Linked DNA regions of Homo sapiens. The protein of the gene in region 6 interacts with the protein of the main gene of each other region in a biochemical or structural test. Each region holds a gene or a part of one and is shown on either strand. Other genes may lie near its edges.

Region 1 (3,500 bases), on a different chromosome or scaffold from region 6:
GCTTGGTATATGTCATTTAATCACTTCTGCTAACTCCATTTATATGTTGTTATCTTTGACTGGGGCTGCAATAATCTGGTAACTCTAGCAAGACATACTTTAAATATTGCCTTCACATGATCAACCACCGGTTCCAATTTAACCCTGAGAATGGTCTTTACTGACAATGACAGTGTGGAACTACAATCTGGCTTTTTCAGAAAACTTCACCATGTACATGATTTAATCAATCCAAAATAGATTCCTGAAGTGTTCCTGCCCTTAAGAAAGATAAACAGATGTCCTATTTTTCAAACAGCCTCTATATAAAACCTAGTTATCTACATGAACCTATAAAACATGTCTGTTGGCATTACGAAGATGACGGGTTCTAGTTGTTCTGTGCTCCTGGGAACGACAAGACAGGACAGGTAGGCAGCGGCTGTGTGTCTATTTCTGGCAGGGTGAGGCATTCCTGTGCTATTCTCTTCTTTCCCCTCTCTATATATTCCTTATCCTCCAACCACTTTCTCCTCATCCACATTCCAGGACAAACTTTGCCCAAGGAGAAGCTCAATGGACTGTTGACCTCTTGTGAATGGAGATCATCTCATCTAATGTATTTTTCTCCACAAACAGAAGTAATTTAAATGACATCTTGGCAGAGTAGCCAATAATCAACAATGGCCACTTCTTCCACTCCCAAGTTGGTAAGTAAGACTTTATTTTATACGTTGAATTGGGCTCCCTGTATAATTAGATTCGGTCAACCCTTCACTAAATGACAGACCAGGAAAGTGAATGTTCCATGTACAGCAAGAAAACGGAAATCTTCAGGGAGAAAAGTCCATCTTCCCTCCTCCTCTTAAAATGTTCTCTTCACCTGTTCTCTCTTCTTACACCTCAGAAGAGATGCCACCCACCCTAGCTGCAAATAAAGATACTCTGATACCACAAAATCCTGCCTCTTCTACAGCTCCTCCCACTCCTGACACCTTGTGCAGAATCCATACACACACACAGGTTCTTCTCCTACTTAAAAAATAAGCTTGGCCAGACACGGTGGCTCATGCCTGTAATCCCAGTACTTTGGGAGGCTGAGGTGGGCAGATCATGAGGTCAAGAGATTGAGACCATCCTGGCCAACATGGTGAAACCCCGTCTCTACTAAAAATACAAAAATTAGCCGGGCGTGGTGGCATGCACCTGTAGTCCCAGCTACTCAGGAGGCTGAAGCAGGAGAATCGCTTGAACCCGGGAGGCGGAGCTTGCAGTGAGCCGAGATTGCGCCACTGCACTCCAGCCTGGGCGACAGAGCCAGACTCCGTCTCAAAAAAATAAAATAAAATAAAATAAAATAAACTTCATTCAAACCTTTGCTTCTTTCAAACAAACACTCTTATTCTTCTCTTTTTTTATACTGGCAAAGATCGCAAGAAAAGGAGTTTCACAGCACCGCCCTGGCTTCCTTAGAACTCCCTCTCCGCCAAACGCTGCTCCACAGAGATCCTGCAGGTCCACCCTGGCAGAACAGCCGTTCCCGCATCACAAGCTAATGTCAAACCAATGACCTTTTCTCAGTGCTCATCCTCCTTGATTTCATGACACCTTTGACACCACTCACTCCCCTCCCCAACACTCCTGATCCTTCATTCGGTCACAGAGTCCCCCAAAACAAAGAGGCAATCCACAGGTATGAAAAATGAATGACAACATTCTCCTGATTCTCTTCCATACTCTTTTATACTCTACACTGACTCACCTACAACTCTGGCATTACAAACTTGTCTTCCAACTCTTCCTCCACATGCATTTATTACCACCCTTAAAGATCTCATCTACTCTGCCTCAAATCATGAAGGATCAGTGCACCAAATCTGCAATTTCAGCTCTAACCTCTCTCAAACACCTCGTAACATTCCTCCTAAAATACCATCAAACCTAAGTTATACGATTGGCCTTCACTATATAAGAGTTCTGCATCCATGGATCCAACCAACCTCAGGTTGAGAACGTCTTTAAAATAAACAATAAAACAGTAAAAATATAAATAGTACCCCATTTTATATCAGGGACTTGAGCATTCTCAGATTTGGGTATAAAATCCCAAACCTCCCTTAGAGACCAAGGGACAACTATATAGACTTTTCACCCTTTCGCCATTGCAAAATAACAGCTCTTCCAGTTATTTTCCAATCTCACCACTTCCCAAATCAACCAAGTTTGCAAACTAACAAATCAAACAAAAAGGAAGGGGTTGGGAGAACATCAAATGTGGAACCTAGCTCCAGCTTTGTCACTAATCAACTGTGTGAATTCAAGGAACTTGCTTAATCCTTTCGACTCTATGTATTCGAGAAATTGAAGGATGGACTAAAATCTTTACAGCCTCCTGGCTCTCAAACCTTCATTTCTCAAAAGTTATCCAAACTTGACATTTCTTTCTCAATTTCTCAAAATGGTTCCCTTTGCATTTCTGCTGCTACCACCTAGTTAGAATGGGTATTTTGTTCATGCAGAGTATTCCTACAGTCTTTTGGTATTCCTGCTTTCTGCCCCCAATCCCAGTCAACCTATTCAAACTTCTTTGTGATATTATTCTTTAGCTTGAAAATATTCAGTATTTCCCCTTAGCCTGCTAAGTATATGATTCTTAACCTTGCATTAAAGACCTTTGATAATCTAACCTCTAACTAATTTCCTAATTTCCCAACACTACTTCTTATTTCAAAACAAAAAGGCATACTTCCCAGACTTGCAACAAGTTCAGTAACCAAGCTGTCTTGAGCCAATAACACCACCTAGTGGTGAAGGCTCTAAAGTAATGTAACATCTTGACCTCTTCCCTTCCGAAAGATAATGCAAACATTACTATTTTCTTTGTTTCCTGCCCTCCACTCCTCACATACAGCTTATTTGTTTTCACCTTTCTCTTCAACGTTTCTTTCTTTTTCTCTCTCCTTAACCTCTGCCTCATAAAAACAATCCTCCCTTTTTTAATAAGATTATTTAAGTCATAGTCAAGATTCTCTATGTTCTACCTAGACAAAAAAAAGAAGCCAATCCTTTTCCTAAGATAACATGGTACGGTGAGGTCTTCAGAATTTCTCTCCACTCATCACACCACAAGCCACACTATGCTTTCTATAACTTGCTTTGCACACATCATTTCCTCTGCTTGAATTGTTCCCCTCTGATTCACACTTCCCTCAGAACTCACATTATCCTAAATCCACCTGCCCCAGATCCCCCAGCTCACTGAGGTGCTGCTATGGACCACCTTGACCTGAATGGATCTCTTATCACACTGGTCTATAAGAGACTGTGTACTTGTCCTCTCCCTTATCAGACTACGAGCTGCTTGAGGGCAGGAAACACGATTTGTTCAGCACTAGATGTTGTGTCTGGCCCAATGTTTGACACAGAGGAGGTCCACTATTGTTGGATTGGTAAATGGACAGATGAATAAAGCGTTAAGAGTGAGAAATGTGAGGCAGGACTGTGTTGGGGAGGGGATATAG
Region 2 (3,500 bases), on a different chromosome or scaffold from region 6:
TGAAGTACCTTTTTTCTATAAATGTTACTCCGTAGCTAATAAATGTGGCTAGTGGATGTCTTTTGAGTGCTGGGGCCCCAGCTAGAGCTGCCCCTCCTGTCTGGGGCAGACGCCGTGAGGAGCCCCACGCTCGGCCCAGGTGGCGCGAGCTAGTGTTTGGCCCCAAAAACTGACTGCTGAGAGCCAGAGATACGAATGAAATGATAAATCCTGAGGTTTATTTCACATGGAGTGTTTAAAGAGCAGAAGGAAGTGCGTGATAAGTGCCCTTTCGCGGTGAGCACGCGAGTCTCATGTTCTCTGCCCTTCCCGCTCTGTGCCCTTGGCAGCTCCCCTCCCACCCGGTCACTCCGTCCAGCAAGCACGCAGACAGCAAGCCCGCGCCGCTGACGCCCGCCTACCACACGCTGCCCCACCCCTCCCACCACGGCACCCCGCACACCACCATCAACTGGGGACCCCTGGAGCCTCCGAAAACACCCAAGCCCTGGAGCCTGAGCTGCCTGCGGCCCGCGCCTCCCCTCCGGCCCTCAGCTGCTCTCTGCTACAAGGAGGTGAGGTCCCTTGACCACTCAAACAGCCAGATGACGGTGAGCATGCCTCGGGCCCTGGGTGTGCCCACGTGCTGGGCCTTCTGTGTACAGCAAAATGCACCCTAACTCCTAGAGAACTGAGAAGGGGGGGTCTGCCTTGGTTCTCTGGTTATCTGCTCTGCTGCTGAGAGGCCCGTGGTAACCTGTGTGGGAAGGCGATGTGCAGGGTCCCCCTCCTTTCTGCCATGCACAGGGGGGCCTTTACTGCACTTGCCGGAGGAGTGTGCCGCCAGGGGCCAGGAGCTGGAAAGGCGCTGAGCCCAGGTGGCTTTCACTCCCTGTGTGTGAGGCCATCGCTCAGCATCTGCACGCTGTCTGCTGCGTCTAACGACCCCTCCTCTAGGTTGGGGATCCTGTCCAGGAGCCCTGCATTTTGTCATCCAGAAGCCATTTGAGATGAAGAGAACATTTACTAATACAAATGAAAAACAATCACTTAGGCGGTTTCCCCCTTTGATGCATAAGAAATCATGATGCGGTCTTTGCTTGTCTCTGTTCTCATCCGGCATTTTTATATTTGCTAGGCGCAAATAAAGTACGATTCCAATGAATAAATAGAAGTGTTAACACTTCCTTACACTTTTACCTAAACCAGCTTGGATGAGGAAAGGAAGTGTCTTTAGAAATCTGTTCTGAGAAGTACTTTCACCTGAGGAAGCTGATAATTGAGATGAGAGTTGTTTTCATAAGCAGTTGAGCGTGCATGGTGGTGAGGTATGAGGAGTGGCGGTGAGAGTGTGGGTATCGTGCGCGTCAGTGTGAGCAGCAGTGCCCGTTGGTGGGGTGTGAGTGAGCGTGAGGATGGTGACACGCTCTTGCCTGGCATTGTGCCTCTGTGTCTGGTCAAGGCCACATTTGCCAAGGGAACTGGAGCAGACTTTTTCTACATTCTTGCCGGCAGCCCTGGGGGTTTTAAGGCCCACAGGAAAGTACTGTATGAGAAATTAGGATCTGTGCTTTTCATTTTTTGTTCTGAGTCTTTGTTTTTATGATATCTTTCAGGTAATCATGTGTGCAAGTCAGAATTTCCATTTTCTATCATGGGAAGTTACTTGAAGAATGTTGCTGTTCCTTATTGTATACTTTAGTGTGCACAGTCTAAAGAAAAAGTGAGCTACTACAAGAACTGGTGGAGACTGAATTACTAGGGAAGAAAATTGGGATAAAACTGTTGGGCAAAGAAGTAGAAAGGGCAACGGAAGGGGTATTGAAGTGAAGATAAACAATTTTTTTTGATAAGTCTGGCTGCATTTGCTTTGCCAACTCCACACTGGGAGAGAAGGGCTCACACCGAGCAGCTGCCGTCCAGTGTTGCTGAGCACCGCCCAGCAGTAGCGTGGAGAGTGATCTTGCAGGGTGTGAGAAGAGGACATGGAGGCTCGTGGAGGCCGCTCTGCAGCCCGCTCTGCCTGGCTCTGGCTCAGGTGTGCTGTGTGCTCTGTGACCCTCTGCGCCTGCAGGTGCCCTCGGAGCACGTGAGGGGCGGGCGTTGGCTCTTCAAGGCTCTCCATCTCAATTTGCTTCGAATTAGGGAAGCCATGAGCACATGTGTATAAATGTGTCTTCTGGAACAGATTGCTGCTGCATTTCTAAGAGCTTTCCAATTTTTTATAGAAATACTTTTGTTTAACTTTTTGAAGGCTATTTTAGATTCAGAGTTTGTTACGTGGCTGTATTGGGTGATGCTGGGGTTTGGGCTTCTGGGGTACCTATTACCCAAATAGGAAACATTGTACCCAATGGGTAGCTTTTCAAAACTCACCCCCATCACCTTCCGCCTTTTGGAGTCCCCAGGGTCTGTCATTTCCATGGTCATGTCCATGTGTACCCATTGTTTAGCTCCCAAGAAAAGACTTTTAAAGATAATTTTAAAAACCAAGCTTTGTTTCCTCTGTTTCCAGCCTGGTTCATTCCATAGCACATCTCATCTTCTGAGTCTTGGTCTCGCGTTTAGCATTCGTGATGGTTTATGTCGTTGGGGTGATGCAGAAACCAGCCTTTTTTTGATATCGGTATTTAACACGTGCTTGACAGTTGACACCTTACCTGCTCTGTTGGGACTTGCTTTGCTCACTTTGTTTTTTGCCGTCGTCTTCTGTGCTTGTTTGAAAAGCTGTTTGAAGAGGTAAGGGGTGGGCCATTCCGTTGTGAACACTCTGAGCTGGTGTGCATGTGGCCCCTGCACAGCAGCCCTGGCCGAGCTTGGCTGTGCTCCTGGCACTCAGAGTCAGGTAGCTGAGCACTCGCTCCCTTTTCTTCTCCCTGAAACTTCAAATATTTTCTTAAAGCAATTATTTTTTACTTATCTGTCATTTAATGACAACCTTAGTTTCCTCCTCTCTTTCCAGTTAGCTGTGCCAGGGGATAGGTCTGTCCTAGGGAGCAGCTGCCCCCTCCTCTCCTCCTCCCTCAGGAGCGTGCAGGATGTCTGTGCACACCAGCGCCAGCCTGCCTCCTGGTGACACCTCTCATCACAGGACTAACAGGACCCAAATGACACGAGGGGTTTTATTAGAATTAAAAAAAAAAAATTAGCCAATGACTAATACTGAAAATGCCCTATTGATTTTTAAAAATTAACGTTCAGAAGCTGGTAAAGAAAAATCAAAGTAGGAAAAGGCGAGAAGCTCTTATCAGTGGCTATAATAATTTGGGGTTTTATACCTTTACAGCAGCCTTTCTGATATGCCAGTGAAAATGATTGGCTTTAGAGTATGTTAGCATTTTCTTTTGTCTTTCCCTAGGATCTTAGTAAGAGCCCTAAGACCATGAAAAAGCTGCTGCCCAAGCGCAAACCTGAACGGAAGCCTTCAGATGAGGAGTTCGCGTCCCGGAAAAGTGAGTACCTGCGGTCCGTGTGGTGGAGGACGTGGCCTCCTGGTCACGTAGGCCATGGCTTTCCTGGGA
Region 3 (3,500 bases), on a different chromosome or scaffold from region 6:
AGGTTACAAGACTGCTCTTCAACATGTGTTGCATTCACTAACAATAATGTCAGCCAGAATAGACAATAATAGTACTTATCTGTCCAGTTCTCTAGTGTAGAAGAGAAAACAAAGACAGACAATATTCACTGCCATTAGTCTCCTGTTCCAACTGCTCTGTTGAAACTGCTTTCATAAATACTTAAATCAATACATACTGTTTTGTCCTTATCTTACTTAACCTTGTTTGCTGTTTTTCCTTTAATTTGACACTATTAATCATCCCTTCCTCCTAAAACTCTCATCTCTTTTGGCTTATCAAACCATACTCTCCTGGTTTGATTACTCTGCATGAACATTAATTCTCACTTCCTTCACTAAAACTTCTTTCTATGCCAAATCCTTACATCACCATCACTATGTTATAACTAGAAAACTCTAAGATACAAGTTAAATTTATATACACATTCAATGACAGTCCTTTGTTGCTATGAAATCTTCCAGTTATGAAATTCTTATTAAAAACTAAATACAGAATAAATAAAAATTCCTATAAACTGACCATATATGCTGAACTACAATATTCCGTGTGTCACTGAAAATATTCCATGGATTGCTTCTAAACTTTGAAGAACTGTATTTTCAAAAGACTTCAGGTCCATGTGCATTGAAGAGAAAAAGAGAAGTTCTTCTAACTTGCATTTTTCATAACATTGAAAAGGTCCTCACAGTTATGGTGCACACAAATGTAAAGACAATACAGTGTAAGCTTATGTTCTGTGCCTAATGCCAGGATCCCAAAGAATCATCCAGAAAATAAGAAGTTCACCATAGGCAACAAACTAAAAACTACTCTATGCGCAGCAATCTATCAACTAGAAAGCCTGCTGCTTTATAAAGGACCTCTGTACTTTAAGGTACAATATTGTTAATTTTCAAATGATGATGCTAAGGAATACCAGATGCTAAAGTGACGGTTGTATTACTAAAAAAAAATGAATTTTTTTGAATATTACATTAAAATATTATGAATGGCAATTCTATATAAACCCATAATATTCAATTAACTAATAAAGATTTTTATTCCCAGAACTGTTAAACTGCACAAGATCAGAAAAGAAAAAAGTTATTAGATTTGAAAATATTAAAACTAAGAAAAGATTACTTCAACTTTTACAAATATACAAGTCAATAGCCAAGACTTTGATTTTAAACTTTAATCTCAAAATTCAGAAAGCACAGACAAAGTAATTCAATTCAGACAACTGATGCAATTCTGACTCCCAAAGTTCCGCCTACGATTGACGCAAACCCCCTACTTACAGTAAATCATTTGAAACATATAGACAATGCTAATCTCCTCACATCACAAGATTCTATGACAGCTTGACATCTGGGTCTATAAGAATACATTTCCTCAAGTGGCAAAATTTATAACAAAGCTGCTCTTATTAATGGGTAAGTTAAGTTAGAATTTTTAACTACTGTTAATTCACCTCTTTAAAAAGGTGAATAGCATAAATGCTGGCATCCTTTAGCTGTAAATGAAATACGATCTGTTCCTTCATGATCTGGCCCTGTTGTCTCTCATCTGCTATCCCACCCCACCTCAGATGGCATTTCTTGAGGACAAGGACCTTGCCCTATTTATGTCTGCGTATCTATCACTGGCATAATGCCTGACACCTGGAGAATAAGCATTGTTTCATAGAAATTAAGCATTCATCTAAGTATTTGTTTGGTGAATATTACTAACCTTTTAAGGTTGCACTTGTGCCACATCTAAGGATATGAAAACAAAAAGACACATGACTTTCTCTCATGGGCCCCTACAAAACAGTAAATTACATTATGGTTGGGCTACAACAGGGGTACACAGGAGTACCCACGGAAGTAGAAGAAAAACAGTATCTGCCTCTCCTCAGAGAGACAATGTTTGAAGGGAGACTTAAATAAAAAAACAGGTTAGGCTGGGCACAGTGGGTCATGCCTGTAAACCTAGCACTTTGGGAGGCCAAAGCAGGCTGATTGCTTGAGTCCAGAAGTTCAAGACCCAGCCTGCCCAACATGGTGAAACCCCATATCTAGAAAAAAGTACAAAAATTAGCAGGGCATGGTGGTACATGCCTGTAGTCCGTAGTCCCAGCTACTCGGGAGGCTGAGGTGGGAGAATCACTGGAGCCCAGGATGTTGAGGTAGCAGTGACCCGTGATCATACCACTGCACTCCAGCCTGGGCAACAGAGTGAGACCCTGTCTCCAAAAAAAAAAAAAAAAAAAAAGCAGGTGGTCCCAGCCTGGGCAACATGCCTAAACCCTGTCTTTACTAAAAATACAAAAAAAGAGCCAGGCATAGTGGTGCAGGCCCGCAGTCCCAGCTACTCTGGAGGCTGAGGTGGGAGAATCACCTGAGCCCAAGCAAGTCTAGGCTGCAGTGAGCTGTGACTGCACCACTGTACTCCAGCCTGAGTGACAGAGTGAGACCTTGTACTGAAAATTACTGTAGAAGAGTGTAAATGTCAGGAAGCATTCACTGGGGAGCCATCTTTGGGAGGAGAAAGAAGATCACAAAAAATAACTGAACGGTACCAGGTTTAATATCTGAGTGGCGAAATAATCTGAACACCAAACCCCCATGACACAAGGTTACCTATATAACAAACCTGCACATGTACCCCTGAATTTAAAATAAAATTTTTTAATCTGTGAATTTATGTTTTAAAACATACATCAGAAATAAATTTTAACAATGAGAAATGTGGTATAATGAAGATGAAGCCAACCCCCATGTGAGTACTCTGAAACGAATTTTTTCACCTAGTAACCACATCTAACAAGTGCAGTATCATAAACATACACTACAAAACTATCAGTGTTACTCCTTCCTTTCAAATCACAAAGCACATGTCCGTGTCTTTCTTATAAAATAGCAGATAGTCCCTTGTAGTATTTTTTCTGTGATCCTTCTATTTTCCATAAACATATTTAGAGGAACAACCTCTAAAAACACTATAATGTAGAATGAGAAAAAAGAAACCAATGGAAGAAGGACTATAACTAAATGAATTACAGAGAGAATTTCCCCTGAACCATGGAAAATCCTACATCTACAGATGGAAAAAGCATAAATTGCAACCAGGAATGATAAGAAACACAGACACACACACACACCCCTAAGAATATCTGGTTGGATTCCTGAAAAAAAAAAAAGAGAGAGAGAGATAAAGAAGATCTTTTAAGTTGCAAGAGAAAACAGGTAATTAAAAAAAATTTACTTTTCATCTGCAACAATGAAAGCTAGATGATGAGAGAAAAATACAGGTGAGATACTGAGAGAACTGAAACCTAAAAGTTTATCACCCAGAAGAGTATCTGGCAAAGATTCAGAGATTCCATCACTCAGTGAAACACCTTAGAAAATGAAAAAAAACAAAAACAAAAAAAACAAAACAAAAAAACACATTAATCGATCAAGAAATCACTCAGAATGAAGAAGTAGAGGAGTCTGGTTAAGAGAAGAAG
Region 4 (3,500 bases), on a different chromosome or scaffold from region 6:
TGCAACCTCTGCCTCCCAGGTTCAAGCGATTCTCCTGCCGCAGCCTCCTAAGTAGCTGGGACTACTGGCGTGTGCCACCACACCTGGCTAATTTTTTGTATTTTTAGTAGAGACGGGGTTTCACGGTGTTAGCCAGGATGGTCTCGATCTCCTGATCTCATGACCTGCCCACCTCGGCCTCCCAAAGTGATGGGATTACAAGGCGTGAGTCACTGTGCCTGGCCCTCTTTTCGTTTTTTGAGATGGAGTCTTGCTCTGTTGCCAGGCTGGAGTGCAGCGGCACAATCTCAGCTCACTGCAACCTCCACCTCCCGGGTTCAAGCGATTCCCCTGCCTCAGCCTCCAGAGTAGTTGGGATTACAGGCGCGCGCCACCATGCCCGGCTAATTTTTTGTATTTTAGTAGAGATAGGGTTTCACCATGTTGGCCAGGATGGTCTCGAACTCCTGACCTTGTGACCTGCCTGCCTCGGCCTACCAAAGTGCTGGGATTACAGGTGTGAGCCACCGCACCCGGCCTCTTTTTTCAAATAGAGACTGTCCCACTCTGTTGACCAGGGTGGAGTGCATGGTGTGATCACAACTCACTGTAGCCTTCAACTTCTGGGCTCAAAAAATCCTCCTGCCTCATCCTCCTGAGTAGCTGAAACCACAGGTGTATGCCACCACATCCAGCTAATTTTCAAATTACTTTTTGCAGAGACAGGGCCCTCACTATGTTGCCCAGGGTGGTCTCAAACTCCTGGGCTCAAGGTATCCTCTAGCCTCAGCCTCCGAAAGTGCTGGGAGTACATGTGTGCCACTGCACTCCAGACTGGGTGACACAGTGAGGCTCTGTCTCAAAAATAAAATAAATAAAATAAAATCAGTCAAATTAGCCAGGCGTGGCAGCATGCGCCAGTAGTCCCAATTACTTGGGAGGCTGAGGCAGGAGAATTGCTTGAACCTGGGAGGCAGAGGTTGCAGCGAGCCGAGATCGCACCACTGCAACTCCAGCCTGGATGACAGAACAAGACTGTCTTAAAAAAAAAAAAAAAAAAATTAGTCAAGTGCAATAGTGAGAAGGGGGGGAAAGAAAGAGTCCAACTATTTTTTTTTTTTAATCAAGTGCTTATATGTTTTGGGGAAGAAAAAAAAAAAAAAAACGTTGGGATCCAGGTGCCTTGGCCTGTAATCCCCATATTTGAGAGGCCAAGAGGACTGCTTGAGCCCAGGAGTTCAAGACCAGCCTGGGCAACAAAACAAGACCCTGTCTCTTCCAAAAAAAATTTTAAAATTAACTGGGCGTGGTGGCGGTGTGGGCCTGTGGTCCCAGCTACTAGGGATGCTGTGGTGGAAGGATCGCTTGAGAGCACCACTACACTTTAGCCTGGGCTACAGAACAAGACTCTGTCTCAATTACAAAAAAAAAAAAAAAAAAAAAAAAAAAAAGGCTGGGCGCAGTGGCTCATGCCTGTAATCCCAGCACTTTGGGAGACCGAGGCAGGTGGATCACCTGAGGTCAGGAGACCAGCCTGACCAACATGGAGAAACCCTGTCTCTACCAATACAAAATTAGCTGGGCATGGTGGTGCATGCCTGTAATCCCAGCTACTTGGGAGGCTGAGGCAAGAGAATCTTGCCCAGGGGGCAGAGGTTGCGGTGAGCCGAGATTGCGCGACTGCACTCCAGCCTAGGCAACAAGAGCAAAACTCCGTCTCAAAAAAATAAAAAGGGCCAGACACAGTGGTTCGCGTCTGTAATCCCAGCACTTTGAGAGGCTGAGGCAACCTGAGGTCAGGAGTTCGAGACCAGCCTAGCCAACATGGTGAAACCCTTTCTCTACTAAAAATACAAAAATTAGCTGGGCGTGGTGGTGGACACCTATAATCCCAGCTTCTCGCAAGGCTGAGGCAAGAGAATTCCTTGAACCTGGGAGACGGAGGTTGCAGTGAGCCAAGATCGTGCCACTGCACTCCACCCTGGGTGAAAGAGTGAGACTCAGTCTCAAAAGAAAAAAAAAAAAAAAGTTGAATGACTTAATGGGCACCAGAATGCTTTTGTCCAAATTGTGCTTGTATTACAAGCATTATAGCCTCAAAGAACAAAGCTTCAACTGAGAGCTGGAGAAGAATTCATTTACCAGAATACTTCATTTCTTTCTTTTTATTTTGAGACAGAGTCTCGCTCTGTCGCCCAGGCTGGAGAGCAGTGATGCGATCTCGGCTAACTGCAACCTCCACCTCCCAGGTTCAAGCCATTTGCCTGCCTCAGCCTCCCGAGTAGCTGGGATTACAGATGACTGCCACCACGCCCAGGTAATTTTTTGTACTTTTAGTAGAAATGGGATTTCACCATGTTGGCTAGGCTGGTCTTGAACTCCTGACCTCAGGTGATCCACCCGCCTTGGCCTCCCAAAGTGCTGGGATTATAAGCATCAGCCACCACTCCTGGCCCCATTTCATTTCTTTAGAAGTAAAATGCTGGCCGGGCACGGTGGCTCACGACTGTAACCCCAGCATTTTGGGAGGCCGAGGTGGCCGGATCATGAGATCAGGAGATCGAGACCATCCTGGTTAACACGATGAAACAGTCTCTACTAAAAATACAAAAAATTAGCCGGGCATGGTGGTGGACGCCTGTAGTCCCAGCTACACAGGAGGCTGAGGCAGGAGAATGGCATGAACTCGGGAGGTGGAGCTTGTGGTGAGCAGAGATCACGCCACTGCACTCCAGCCTGGGCAATGGAGCGAGACTCCGTCTAAAAAAAAAAAAAAAAAGTAAAATGCTATCTGCAAAGAGATCATCATATCCTTGTTTTAGGAAAACTCTTTGGGCAATATATTCCACAGGTCTGAAAGATAAACCTTTATTGCCAAGGACTGCTCTCAGCCAACTACAGTACTTGTAAAATTCAAGAATGTATAACTGTATGCCAGCCAGTACTGACTAACAGGTCATTCACTCTTTAGAGTTGCAGTAAATAGCAATGCTCAAACGCCCAGCTAGTTTTTTGTATTTAAAATTATTTGTATTTAAATCTTAAAAAATATTTTTAAAAATACATTTTACTAGGTTCTTATTTCAACACAAACTGAACTCATCAGCTGTAGCAGTATGTTGAAAAACAACTGTTGCCATTCAGCTGATATTAACAGCTCAGAACTGTTTTCTATGTCTAAATTTCAGGTTAACGATATCAGCCAAAATCTATCTTCTCATACCTATTCTCAAAGGAACGGTCTTACAAAACTAATAATCTGGTCGAGTGCGGTGGCTCACACCTGTAATCCCAGCACTCTGGAAGGCAGAGGCAGGCGGATCACCTAATGTCAAGAGTTGGAGACCAGCCTGACCAACATGGTGAAACCCCGTCTCTACTAAAAAATACAAAATTAGCTGGGCATGGTGGGGCATTCCTGTAATCCCAGCTACTTGGGAGGCTGAGGCATGAGAATCACTTGAACTCGGGAGGCGGAGGTTGCAGTGAGACAAGATAGCACCGTTGCAGTGAGACAAGAT
Region 5 (3,500 bases), on a different chromosome or scaffold from region 6:
TTGATAGCCTCTCTTTTAAAAAGTCTGTGACATTATTAAAGAGGTGACGGAATGCTTGTTTTGCAAACCCCAACACATCTTTCACTGTGGACCATTGCTATTACTTCATTAACACAGTTGCTCAGATCTCAAGGTACTCACGGTCTGAAATATATTTTACAATTAGAAGGTATGCACAGGTCAAAAAGAGCAATCCAAGGGTTAGAAGTCCCCAGTGCCCCACACTGGCTCATTGCCGAGGTGACAGGGTGCAGGCTGTGTGAGCCAGGCACACTTACCCCTCAACTGGGCTTCTGTAGCTTTACAATTTGGATAACTAGTTAGCGGACAGTAGTTGGGACATGTCACATACAGATTTGAGTCCTCCAATAATGTACACTTTGCCAGGTTTTATCCCTTTGTTAAAGCAAATAGAACAGAGAGGGAATATAGCTGCCAGTAAAAATCATTTCCCCCCTCTTAATCTCCCATCCTTCATCTCCATGAAACCGACTATTAAGATAACCTTTCTCTCTCTGTGCACTAGTGGAAAAAGTAAAGTTCTATAGAAACTCACAGTTAAGAGGGACTCTGAATACAGCAAGTTAAGGCTTTTAGTGCAAATAGAATGAATTCCCACTAAGGTCAAAAGGTTTCAATTGGGTACCATGCTGACTTCTTGGTATCTTTTAAGGCCTAATTTTCCCTTCCTTGAGATTACTGTAGTGTGTTCCAGCTAATTTCTATTTGGAAACGAGTTGGAACAGCTGAAAACTAGGTATTATTGAAGGCAAAGCAGCCTCACGTCAGTTTTTTATCAGCTCATTTGGGAAGGTTTTTTTTTTTTTTTTTTTTTTTTTTTAATTAATTAGAAAGTAGGCTGGGCACGGTGGCTCATGCCTATAATCCCAGCACTTGGGGAGGCCGAGGATCTCCTCTCTGGTGGATCACTTGAGGGCAGGAGTTAAGAGACCATCCTGGCCAACATGATGAAACCCTGTCTCTACTAAAAATACAAAAAGTAGCTGGGCGTGGTGGCATACTCTTACAATCCCAGCTACTTGGGAGGCTGAGGCAGGAGAATCACTTGAACCTAGGAAGCAGAGGTTGCAGTGGGCCAAGATCACACCACTATACTCTAGCCTGGGCGACAGAGGTGGGGAAAAAAGTAGGACCCCTGTCCTATATTCAGGTTTTTCTCACATATATGAACCCATCTAAATTCTACGTTGTTAAAGGTAGCTTAGGTTAATTAGTCTATACTTATTTAAGAACAATATGGGGTGAGATGGATTTTTTTTTAAAAATCCTAAAGTAAGGCTTTCTACTTTCCTTCTAATGAGGAAAAAGGTGACAAAAATTCAAGTGTCAATGTCCCCTTCCTGGGAAGAGGTTTAGAAAAACAACAGCTCACCTTCTGAACTCTACCAGTTCCTTTTGAAGTTAACGAAGCATTAAAATCAGATGTAAAAAAAGAAAAAAAAAGGCAGGGAAATATTTACAAAACTGGACATTCTTTACAGATATACAATCTTGCTAATACTGGGAGAACCATACAAGGATGTATAAAGAGAGACAGTCACCTTAGTAATGCAAGGATAGAGAAAACCAGGATATAATATGTGTTTTTTATTGCCAGAACATGGTGAAACTAGGAGGAGCAGAGATGACCTGATCCCTGAAGTGAACTGCTCAGCTATTCTGTGTACCTCAGGAGGTCTGCAAGTGTGTGGTTAGGTAAAAACTGAGCTGTGCAAACTCACTGTATCCAAGCTCTTCTCATGAGAGAGCAGAACAACCTGGCAAGCTTAAAGGCAAGTGTTTTCGTTCTTTTAATTAAATAGGCTGTGACAAAATTAACAATAAAACTAGCCCAGAACCAACCAGCCCGGTAAGTGTCGTGCAAATCTTGCAGTAACAAAAGACCATCTGAGAGACTACACGTTGGTCTCCAGTCCTAGCAAGCGTCCCATTCTCTCCACATTCTTATCAATTGTAGCTTGACATGTTATCTCCTTGGCACATTCCATAGGAAACCAGCCTCTTTCTCCATCTCGTAGTCGTTCCCCCTCATACCAGCCTGTGAAAAAGAACAGAGTCCACACCAAACAACAAGTATTTGGAGTGTGCCAGGCTCCAAGGATATGAAAAAGCTGAGAGGCAGCATCCCTCCCCAGGCTAAGTGCTACGGTGAGAAGAGAAAGTGGGACAGGGAAAGCTTTCGAGGGGGAATGAATGACATGGCAGGGAAAGAACGTGAGCAGAGGCCCTGAAGTGAGAAGGCTGAGAGTATTTGAACCTGGGCTGAGCTGGGAAAGGAGATGCTTTGGGTAAAGGATAGCAGGAAGAATGCTATTTTTGAAAGGACGAATATTTAGAGATAAGAACTGGGTCACTGAGGGACTGGGGAAAAAAGAAAACGTCATGGTTTAGCCTTAGAGATGAGAAGACAGTACATATATGTGATCTCAAACATTAACATGTCAAGATTTGGAATATGGGCAATGATGACAAAATGACACTCCTCGGGTCTATAGCACTCTGCATCCTGGACCACGAGTGTCCCATAAGAACGCTCCCACTCACCATCGCTGACACGTTGATAGATGAGGACGACGTCAGCCACCTGCAGGGAGAGTTCATCTGGCTGCTTAGCAGTAAATGACCTAACGATTTCCACCTGGGTCAGTGCTGAGGCCAAAAGAGGACATACTAAGTTTCCAGTAGCAGAGAAAAAACATGTGCAATCCAATAATGTACACTTACTTATTTTTCTCTGCAATTCAGGGCCAGCATTGAGAGAAACAAGTTGGGCTTCTAATAAAAAGCAGAACATCTTTTCTAGCAACTCCCTTGCTTGGCTATAAGCTTTAGAATTTTAGAAGCTCAGATTTGAGAGGCCTTTTATGATGCATGATTCCCCTCAATAACAGGTTGATCAGGAGTCATTAGTCATGTCACACAATGGAACAGAAAACAGCCACTCTGCATTAGGGAAACTGAGACATGAAAGAGTTGCTGATGTGCCAAGGCCATGCAAAATCTGCAACAGACACAGTTCTCCTGGCTCTCATCAGAGTGTCTCCCCATCCCAACAGCAGCACATGAAAGTTTCCAAAAAAAAGTTTAGAAATAAAATGAGCTCCAACCAAAAGCTGAGAAGTCATGTTAGACCTCCTCAGAAATGCTGACATGTGGCCGGGCACGGTGGCTCACGCCTGTAATCCCAGCACTTTGGGAGGCCGAGGCAGGCGGATCACGAGGTCAGGAGATTGGGACCATCCTGGCTAACACGGTGAAACCCCGTCTCTACTAAAAATACAAAAAATTAGCTGGGCATGGTGGCGGGCGCCTGTAGTCTCAGCTACTTGGGAGGCTGAGGCAGGAGAATGGTATGAACCCAGGAGACGGAGCTTGCAGTGAGCTGAGATAGCACCAGAGCGAGACTCCATCTCAAAACAAACAAACAAAATGCTGACATGTGACTTCTTAATTTGCTTTTTAATACAAAGCTTGATTTC
Region 6 (3,500 bases):
GAAGAGATTAAAAACTCACATCTTCAAACACAGCCTTACAGAAATTGACCTTTATTTGTTGTACTAAAGCCTGTTTAACTTTTGATACAAAGTAACATTTTAGTACAGAAAATCCCAGTCTGTCAGCTCAGTACCTGTCTGTGCACACTGTACCATCTCAGTCCCACTCTGCCTGTAACTTAGAAAACAGCCCCTACCCCCAGAGGGTCTGCGAGTTAATACCTTGAGAATAGTCTACAGTTTTTCATAGTTTGTCTGAGCTAGAAAACTTGTACCTGTAAAACAAAGGACAGCATTGAGGACTGAAACTTGTCTCTTTTTTGAACAACTGTGCAAGAAAATATATCCCTTTTTAAAAAACATCAGTTATGGCTAAACTACAATCTAGTGTCTAGAATTACAAAGAATAAAATGAAATCAAAGATTTCTCGCTAGTAAAATGAAATGTTAGGAACAGTATTAAAATATAGGTCCTACCCCAACGACACTTACACAGAGCCCAGTACAGTACCTATTATTAACAGGACGCATAGCTTAAGGAGGAACCACATCAAATCTTCAGCCAGACATATCTAGCCTCAGAAGTGCAAAAAAAAAAAAAGCCCCCAAACGAAGACACCCACACTGAGTAGGGTGCATGCCGTGAGTGCTGTAATCAAGATTAAAAAGACCTCAGTTTTTCTTTTTAGACTGTTGATAGTGACAATAACCATTATGCTTCCCCTAAAAGCTCTCAATTCAATGTCTGAAACATGAATGTTTTCATATCAAAAAGAACTGATGTACCTGCCACCCTCTAAAAAGTTTAAGAATTACCCTGCAAACATTGCACTGATGAAGGCTGTCACGACTTACAGAGCCTAAGGAGGACCCAATGGCAGGCATCAGCACAGCTGAACACCACCTGGACCCCACTGCAGCCCTGCCCACGCAGCTCTCACGGAGCAGACACAGTCCTCAAGTAATAAGCACAGATGGAGGAGAAACGAGAGGCTGTGGAAGGCAGGAGAGAAAGGCCGAGAGACGAGTTTGTAAGAATGCCAAAGTCACCTTCCCCATTGTGGGAGGAAAATGCCAAAGGCACTGGTTCTGCTGCCACAGGCAGTCTGAGCACCTGGAGTTGTGACGTCCTTCCAGGAGAGGTGCCACCAAGGAGCAGGAGGTTTGTCAAAGCTCTGGTCCCACCAACAAGAACCTCCCAAAGCAAAGCAGCCCCCATTGAGGTTCCAAGGTCGTTTTGCTGAAGACGGGAACGAAACCAACACCAAAGCGACAGGGGGTTGACAGAGGGGACAGGGGCTGGGCACCGGCAACATGGAGCCGTTCAAGTAAACATAAACCACCAAATACTTAGAAAAGGCTTGTAAACGAGTGATCCGAAAGGTTCTCTTTGCAGCATCTCTGATCAGCTGGCTAAAGAAAGGTGGGTGCTGAACCCGTCTTTAGTGTTATCTGTTTTGTGTTAAAGCACACGTGTGACACGGGCAGAGTGTGTGGGCCTGGGCCTGGATCGCACGCAGCCGTGGCCCTCTGTCTACAAAGGAGGTGCTTCTGGGTCCTGGTTCCGGATCCTTCCCCCGCATGTTCATAGACGGACAGACTTCTACTTTCAGTCGCTAGAAAAGAGCTGAGTCTGGTGTCCCCTCAGGCGGCCAGCTGCAGTCATCCACAGCACAGCATTCTCCTAGAGCGGGCAGGCTGGAATCCACAGGACTTTATTTTGTTCTTGATTGACCATTGCCAAGATCTGAGTGCAAATGCTTGACAGGGCTCCTCCCTGGATGACCCCTGCAAAAGAGCCCCCCAGACACGTCATTCAGCTCAGAGTAAGACCCCAGGTTTGAGGCAAGGCAGTACAGCTTGCACTCTTTCTACTGTGTGGCTGTCTGCTTTGTGCTCCTTGGCACTCTGCTCCATCCCCACCTGACTCTCCTTCACCAGCAAGAAACTGGGAAAGAAAATTGCCCCTCTTGAGTTGATCACTCATATGTAAACTGCCCACCCCACTGCAGTTAACACCCTGGGTTGGGTTTGCAATGGTTGGGGGAATCCCAGGGCATCAGAAGGAAGTTTGGAGGACATGTGGCGGTGGTCTAATCATTAGCAGGATTCTGCAGGAAACGACAAGTTTAAGGAGCCAGATAGCTCATGGCCAAGAGGAGAGTCACAGAAAGATGATGGCGCCAACTTGGGCCAGCCCTGTACTATAGGAGTTTGACAAAGGGGTCTATAGACACCAGGCCAGGGGTACTCCAGTGTGCTCCACATAACAGCACCTGGACACAAACCAAGCCCCTACTGCAACAAGGCATGCTCAGAAATTGACAGTGAGTGTCTAGAAACTGCTATGGAAACAGGACGTCGTAATTTTATGTCTGTTGAATCTAACAAGAAAAAAATAGAGCTTACCTTTTGCAAGACTTAGAGTTTTAAATTTTCATCTCTCTAGGAATTGTCAGTGTATTTGGCTAAATACCAGTCTGTGAGGAATTGGAAATGAAAGTTCACACACACACCCACACACACACACACACAGAGGCATGCACACCTGCACATACCTACACACACATGGGCACCAAGCCCAGGTCCCTGGACTAGATCATAACACTCTCCACAATGCAGTTAGAATCCCTGTCCCATCCTCTGTGACTGCAAATGCTAATGCCCTGCAAATGACAGACTTTCCCAAAGAGGCTGAAGGCCAGAAGGTAAAATAGAACCAAACTTCACTGAGTTTGTTTCACTTTGAAGACCAGAGATGGTAAGGGGACAGCATTGTTTTTTTTTGTTTTGTTTTTTGTTTTTTTTTTTTTGGAGGGGGGTTTGCCAAATCCCGCTGCAAAACGGGACTGCCCTGGAGGGTGCTAGGGACAGATGGGCCCCTAGCCTCCGCTGCCCACACTGCTGGCACACTGGGGGCTGCTCCAGTCCCCGCCCTGCCTGGGGACACTGTGGCTGCACTAAACTGCACCTGTGCTATGAGACAGACCCACCACTGCACGTGTGAAAATGAGCAGGCAAGCCAGGCAGGACCTGAGGCCAAGATCGGTGAGCTTAACATTCAACCTGTAAGAATCCTGACGTTGGCCAGGGACTGCAATCTGAACACCTGACTTGTCAGGAACGTGCTCATGACAGCACTTGGGAGCATGTAGAAAGTGCGGGCTTCTCCACGGCTAAGAAAACAGCCTTAGGAAGCCTCTGCTTCCTTCCCTGCTGCCTGCTCCCCACTCCAGGCCCACGCACACCTACCTGTGAAGTACCTGCTGTACTCCTGCTCAAGCTTCTGCGCCGCCTCAAACTGCTCTTTGGAATGCCTCTGAGTCACCTTGTCCCTCAGGTAGATGGGGTCTCTCTGCTCCCTGTGGGGACAGCCAGACACCAGGCTGAGCACTGAGCCTCCTCCAGGCCCTCTTTCCTTCCTCTGTCCAGGCTAACAGGGGCCCCATCAAGGCAGGGGTAGGCTGTGGAGGGAGGCCCCATGTGCTCCCCACATAAAG
Region 7 (3,500 bases), on a different chromosome or scaffold from region 6:
CATATTTTGACGTAAATGTGTGTCTTAGAGATCTTCATTTCAGTAAATATGAATCTATATTTTTAAATGCTGCATAGTATTCCAAAACCTGGGACTCATTAAGTAGTCCATAGGAATGTACATTTAGATCATTTCTGCATAATTTGTGTGTGTGTCTATATGTGCGTGATTCCAGATGGTGGCAGGGAAGCTCCTTGAAATGCCCTCTAGTGTCCCCATGTGACTATTTCCTAGTAGGATATTTCTAGATTTTGTCATTGCTGGGCCTGAGAATATACATATTTTTTATTTTAATAGCATGGCCAAATTGCCCTCTAAAAAGCTTGTGCTGCTTTGTACTTATACAACACCAAGACCAACCAGGAGGGCCTCTCTGCCCACACCCACTGTCTCATAGGATGTTAAGAGGATTCTTTGTGTTTCACCTTTGCTTGGATAGGTGAAAATGGTGTCTCTTGTCATTTTAATTTGCTGATTACCAGTGACTTCTGGGCTTTACAGTGAGAGCTTGCTCGGGGCCATTAACCATCATTCTATGGGTTATTTGTCTTTTTCGTATTGATTTGTTGAAGCTTTTTATATCACCTGCTCTTAAACACATTCACCTCAGCTCTTGAAACGGCTTATGGACAGAGCAGCAGGAGGGTGCCGAGCCCTCCGAGGAACTGGGGTTTTCTTCGGAATGTTTTAATGAGGCGTCAAGTAGCCTCCCTCAGATTCCTGTTGTGGGCCTTCTGGGGACACTCCCTGGTCCAGCCACCACATCAGGAAGGCAGCTATTTCAGAAGGAGAGTCCTCAGGAAAAAGAAAAGGTGGGGCGAGGGTTTTGCAGACCTCTGAAATTGTCTGCAAAATACGGTGTGATTGGGAGAAGGGCGCAAACTTTTGCTCAGGTTTGCAGAAACATCAGAGACCTTCAAACCCTTAAAAGCCCCAACTCTGGGGCCAGTCTTATGCCCGAGGTGAGACCTAGTGGGATCCCATTCTGCTGAGCAGGCGATGGCTTAGATTAGGCCATACTGTTCTTCTGGGCCTTGATTCCTCAACCCAAGTAGGGCCTGCTTATGAAGATCCACCAGGTCGTAGCAGCCAACTCCGCTATCCCAGGCTGCATCCCACTGCCTGCCCCGAAGGCGGCCACGCTGGCTGGCCAGGATGAGAGGCGTCACAGTGCCTCTTCCCCCCCAGCCCCTCCCAGCCCCAAACACAGGCAGCCTGTTCAGGAAAGCCTGGCGAAGGGGAGGAAAAGTCAGCACTTGTCAGCGGTGGCGGGGCAGGACGAGGAGCCTGCTCAGGCCAGCCGGACAGAGAGAGGGCAGCAGGGGTGGGGGAGCAGTCCCAGCCAGCTGGCACGGGAGACATCCAGGGGTGCCAGCATGGGTCCCAGTAGTAGAACCTGGAGGAGGGCTGTAGGAAGGCCAGGAGGTCATGAAGGGGTCTCCTGTTAGCCAGGGTTTTCTCCTTCTGGCTGTGCTGGAGGCATCAACGGCCTGGTTCCCAACACCAGAGCCCAACTGTCCTCTACCCAGTTACAGCTGGGGACAAGCCGCCATCACTGGCATCACCGGCACCTTTATGTCTACACACCTCTGCTCCTAAATCGGCTTCGGGGAGGCTGCCTTAGGGGATCTGCAAAGGGAGACTTGCTTAATGTAGCAGCTAAAATCCAGGATTATGGAAAGATGATACCGTGGCTGGTGCCAGGGTACCCGTGTGGCTGGGCACTTCCTCCTCTCTTTCCCTTCTTCCAAGGCTGCTGCTTCAGTGTCAAGCAGATCTTAGCTCCATCCCTGGCCCTCCTCTTTCTGTGACTCTTGGCCTCAGTGTCCCTGTCTGTAAAATGGGGATGTGGTAGAAGGTGCAGGAGGCATGGGTTTTAAAGCTCCTTGCTGACCATGGGGAGGATGTGCTACAGTGGAGGGTATTGAAGCCAAGCACCATGATGGCTGGGTTGGGGGAGTCAAGTCAGCCCTAATCAGGACCATAGGAGGAGTGTTGGGGGGATATGGGACAGCTGGTGCAGGGCTGGGTGGCCTGTAAGTGGTGGGTATGGACTAAGTGACCCCTGGCCACAGCCCAGCCCCAGTCCCTCAGTCCTCACCCCTGAGACCCAAGATCTGCAGATCCGCTGGATCTAAGGGGACGCAAGCCTGAGTCCTCTGCACCCTGGCGCTGAGCCAAGAAGACAGGAACTCCTCAAGGGAGAGAGGGTTGGAGGGGCGGGGAGAAGGGAGTAGCAGACAGGGGGCATGCCAGGCTGAGAAGAGATACAGCTGTCAGCATTTCCCCTTCATCCCCAGGAGATAAGGCCTCCTCAGTCAGGGCAGAGGCAGAGGAGGGGGTCCTTTTTCCTCCTAAGCTCAAGCTTGGGGCCTCTGGCAGTAACCTTGAATCCTAATGTAAGTCCAGAGTGGATCCAGAAATGCAAGGAGCCATTGGGATACTCTTCCATCCCAAAAGCTTGCCAGGAACACCTTATCTAGCAGGTCCTCCTGTAGTCCCTGCCCCCAGTCCACCCTGGGGCCCCATCTCCCATCTGCCCCTCACTGTCACCTGCTGGACTCAGCCATCTACCCAGATAATCTCCCCCAGCCACCTTGGGTCCCTGGCCTGGCTGGGAGCACCCATGTCACCAGGCAGCAGGGGTGCACATGGCGGGGATGTGACTTGCTGCTGCTGCTGCTGCTCACAGTATCAACAATAGCAACCAGCTTTTCCTGAGCTTCACCCCTGCACAGGCTTGTTGTGAAGTACTTCATTTAATCTTCACAGCAGCTTTTTTTTTTTTTTTTTTTTTTTTGAGATGGAGTTTCGCTCTTGTTGCCCAGGCTAGAGTGCAATGGCGCGATCTCGGCTCACTGGAACCTCCGCTCCCAGGTTTGAGCGATTCTGCTGCCTCGGCCTCCCGAGTAGCTGGGATTACAGGCGCACCACCACACCCAGCTAATTTTGTATTTTTCAGTAGAGACAAGGTTTCTCCATGTTGGTCAGGCTGGTCTCGAACTCCTGACCTCAGGTGATCCACCTGGTTTGGCCTCCCAAAGTGCTGGGATTACTGGTGTTAGCCACCGTGCCGGGCCAACAACAGCCCTATTATTACCCTGATTTTACAGGAAAACTGAGGCACACGGGTTAAGCAACTTTCTCAGACACGAAGCTAGTCAAGGGTGGAGGTGGGATTCACATTGTGGGGCTGGTGGCAGAATCTCCTTGAAGAGGAGGGCACAGCTGGAGGGAGGAGTGAACAGGAGTGGGGGCATTCCAGGCACGGAGCTGTGAGCTAACGTTTGGAGGGGTAGCGCACTTGGTGTGGGGTTGTCCTCCTCTTCTTGGGAAAGTGCTTCCTTAACTTTAACATGAGTTATTCTTGTTGCAATGGCTGTGCTAACAGATAAATAGGTCCTAAAGTTCAGGGAGGCCAGAGGTGGGGCCACCACCCCTATGGATGAATGAAGGAGTGTGGGAGTCATGCGTGCTGGAAGCACATATCTTTCCCTCTC

Evidence for each region.
Region 1: the proteins of DLG5 (region 6) and FAT1 interact in a test that uses a peptide from one of them, tested with the Homo sapiens proteins (one large-scale study listed by IntAct).
Region 2: the proteins of DLG5 (region 6) and ARHGEF7 interact in a test that uses a peptide from one of them, tested with the Homo sapiens proteins (one large-scale study listed by IntAct).
Region 3: the proteins of DLG5 (region 6) and GUCY1A2 interact in a test that uses a peptide from one of them, tested with the Homo sapiens proteins (one large-scale study listed by IntAct).
Region 4: the proteins of DLG5 (region 6) and GJC1 interact in a test that uses a peptide from one of them, tested with the Homo sapiens proteins (one large-scale study listed by IntAct).
Region 5: the proteins of DLG5 (region 6) and ARHGEF26 interact in a test that uses a peptide from one of them, tested with the Homo sapiens proteins (one large-scale study listed by IntAct).
Region 7: the proteins of DLG5 (region 6) and PTH1R interact in a test that uses a peptide from one of them, tested with the Homo sapiens proteins (one large-scale study listed by IntAct).

Annotation. Positions count from the first base shown.
Region 1 is NC_000004.12:186,717,357-186,720,856, forward strand, and holds part of FAT1 (protocadherin Fat 1 isoform 1 precursor), read right to left. Parts: intron 1-3,500.
Region 2 is NC_000013.11:111,282,810-111,286,309, forward strand, and holds part of ARHGEF7 (rho guanine nucleotide exchange factor 7), read left to right. Parts: intron 1-329; coding exon 330-554; coding exon of another isoform or gene 555-590; intron 591-1,595; exon of another isoform or gene 1,596-2,017; intron 2,018-3,337; coding exon 3,338-3,431; intron 3,432-3,500. UniProt on the Homo sapiens protein: Acts as a RAC1 guanine nucleotide exchange factor (GEF) and can induce membrane ruffling. Functions in cell migration, attachment and cell spreading. Promotes targeting of RAC1 to focal adhesions. May function as a positive regulator of apoptosis.
Region 3 is NC_000011.10:106,941,977-106,945,476, forward strand, and holds part of GUCY1A2 (guanylate cyclase soluble subunit alpha-2), read right to left. Parts: intron 1-3,500. UniProt on the Homo sapiens protein: Has guanylyl cyclase on binding to the beta-1 subunit. Isoform 2 acts as a negative regulator of guanylyl cyclase activity as it forms non-functional heterodimers with the beta subunits.
Region 4 is NC_000017.11:44,823,788-44,827,287, forward strand, and holds part of GJC1 (gap junction gamma-1 protein), read right to left. Parts: intron 1-3,500. UniProt on the Homo sapiens protein: One gap junction consists of a cluster of closely packed pairs of transmembrane channels, the connexons, through which materials of low MW diffuse from one cell to a neighboring cell.
Region 5 is NC_000003.12:154,253,890-154,257,389, reverse strand, and holds part of ARHGEF26 (rho guanine nucleotide exchange factor 26), read right to left. Parts: exon of another isoform or gene 3,417-3,500; intron 2,671-3,416; coding exon 2,566-2,670; intron 2,060-2,565; coding exon 1,917-2,059; 3' UTR 1-1,916. UniProt on the Homo sapiens protein: Activates RhoG GTPase by promoting the exchange of GDP by GTP. Required for the formation of membrane ruffles during macropinocytosis. Required for the formation of cup-like structures during trans-endothelial migration of leukocytes.
Region 6 is NC_000010.11:77,790,756-77,794,255, forward strand, and holds the end of DLG5 (disks large homolog 5), read right to left. Parts: intron 3,363-3,500; coding exon 3,253-3,362; intron 1,789-3,252; coding exon 1,685-1,788; 3' UTR 36-1,684; downstream 1-35. UniProt on the Homo sapiens protein: Acts as a regulator of the Hippo signaling pathway.
Region 7 is NC_000003.12:46,887,721-46,891,220, forward strand, and holds part of PTH1R (parathyroid hormone/parathyroid hormone-related peptide receptor precursor), read left to right. Parts: intron 1-3,500.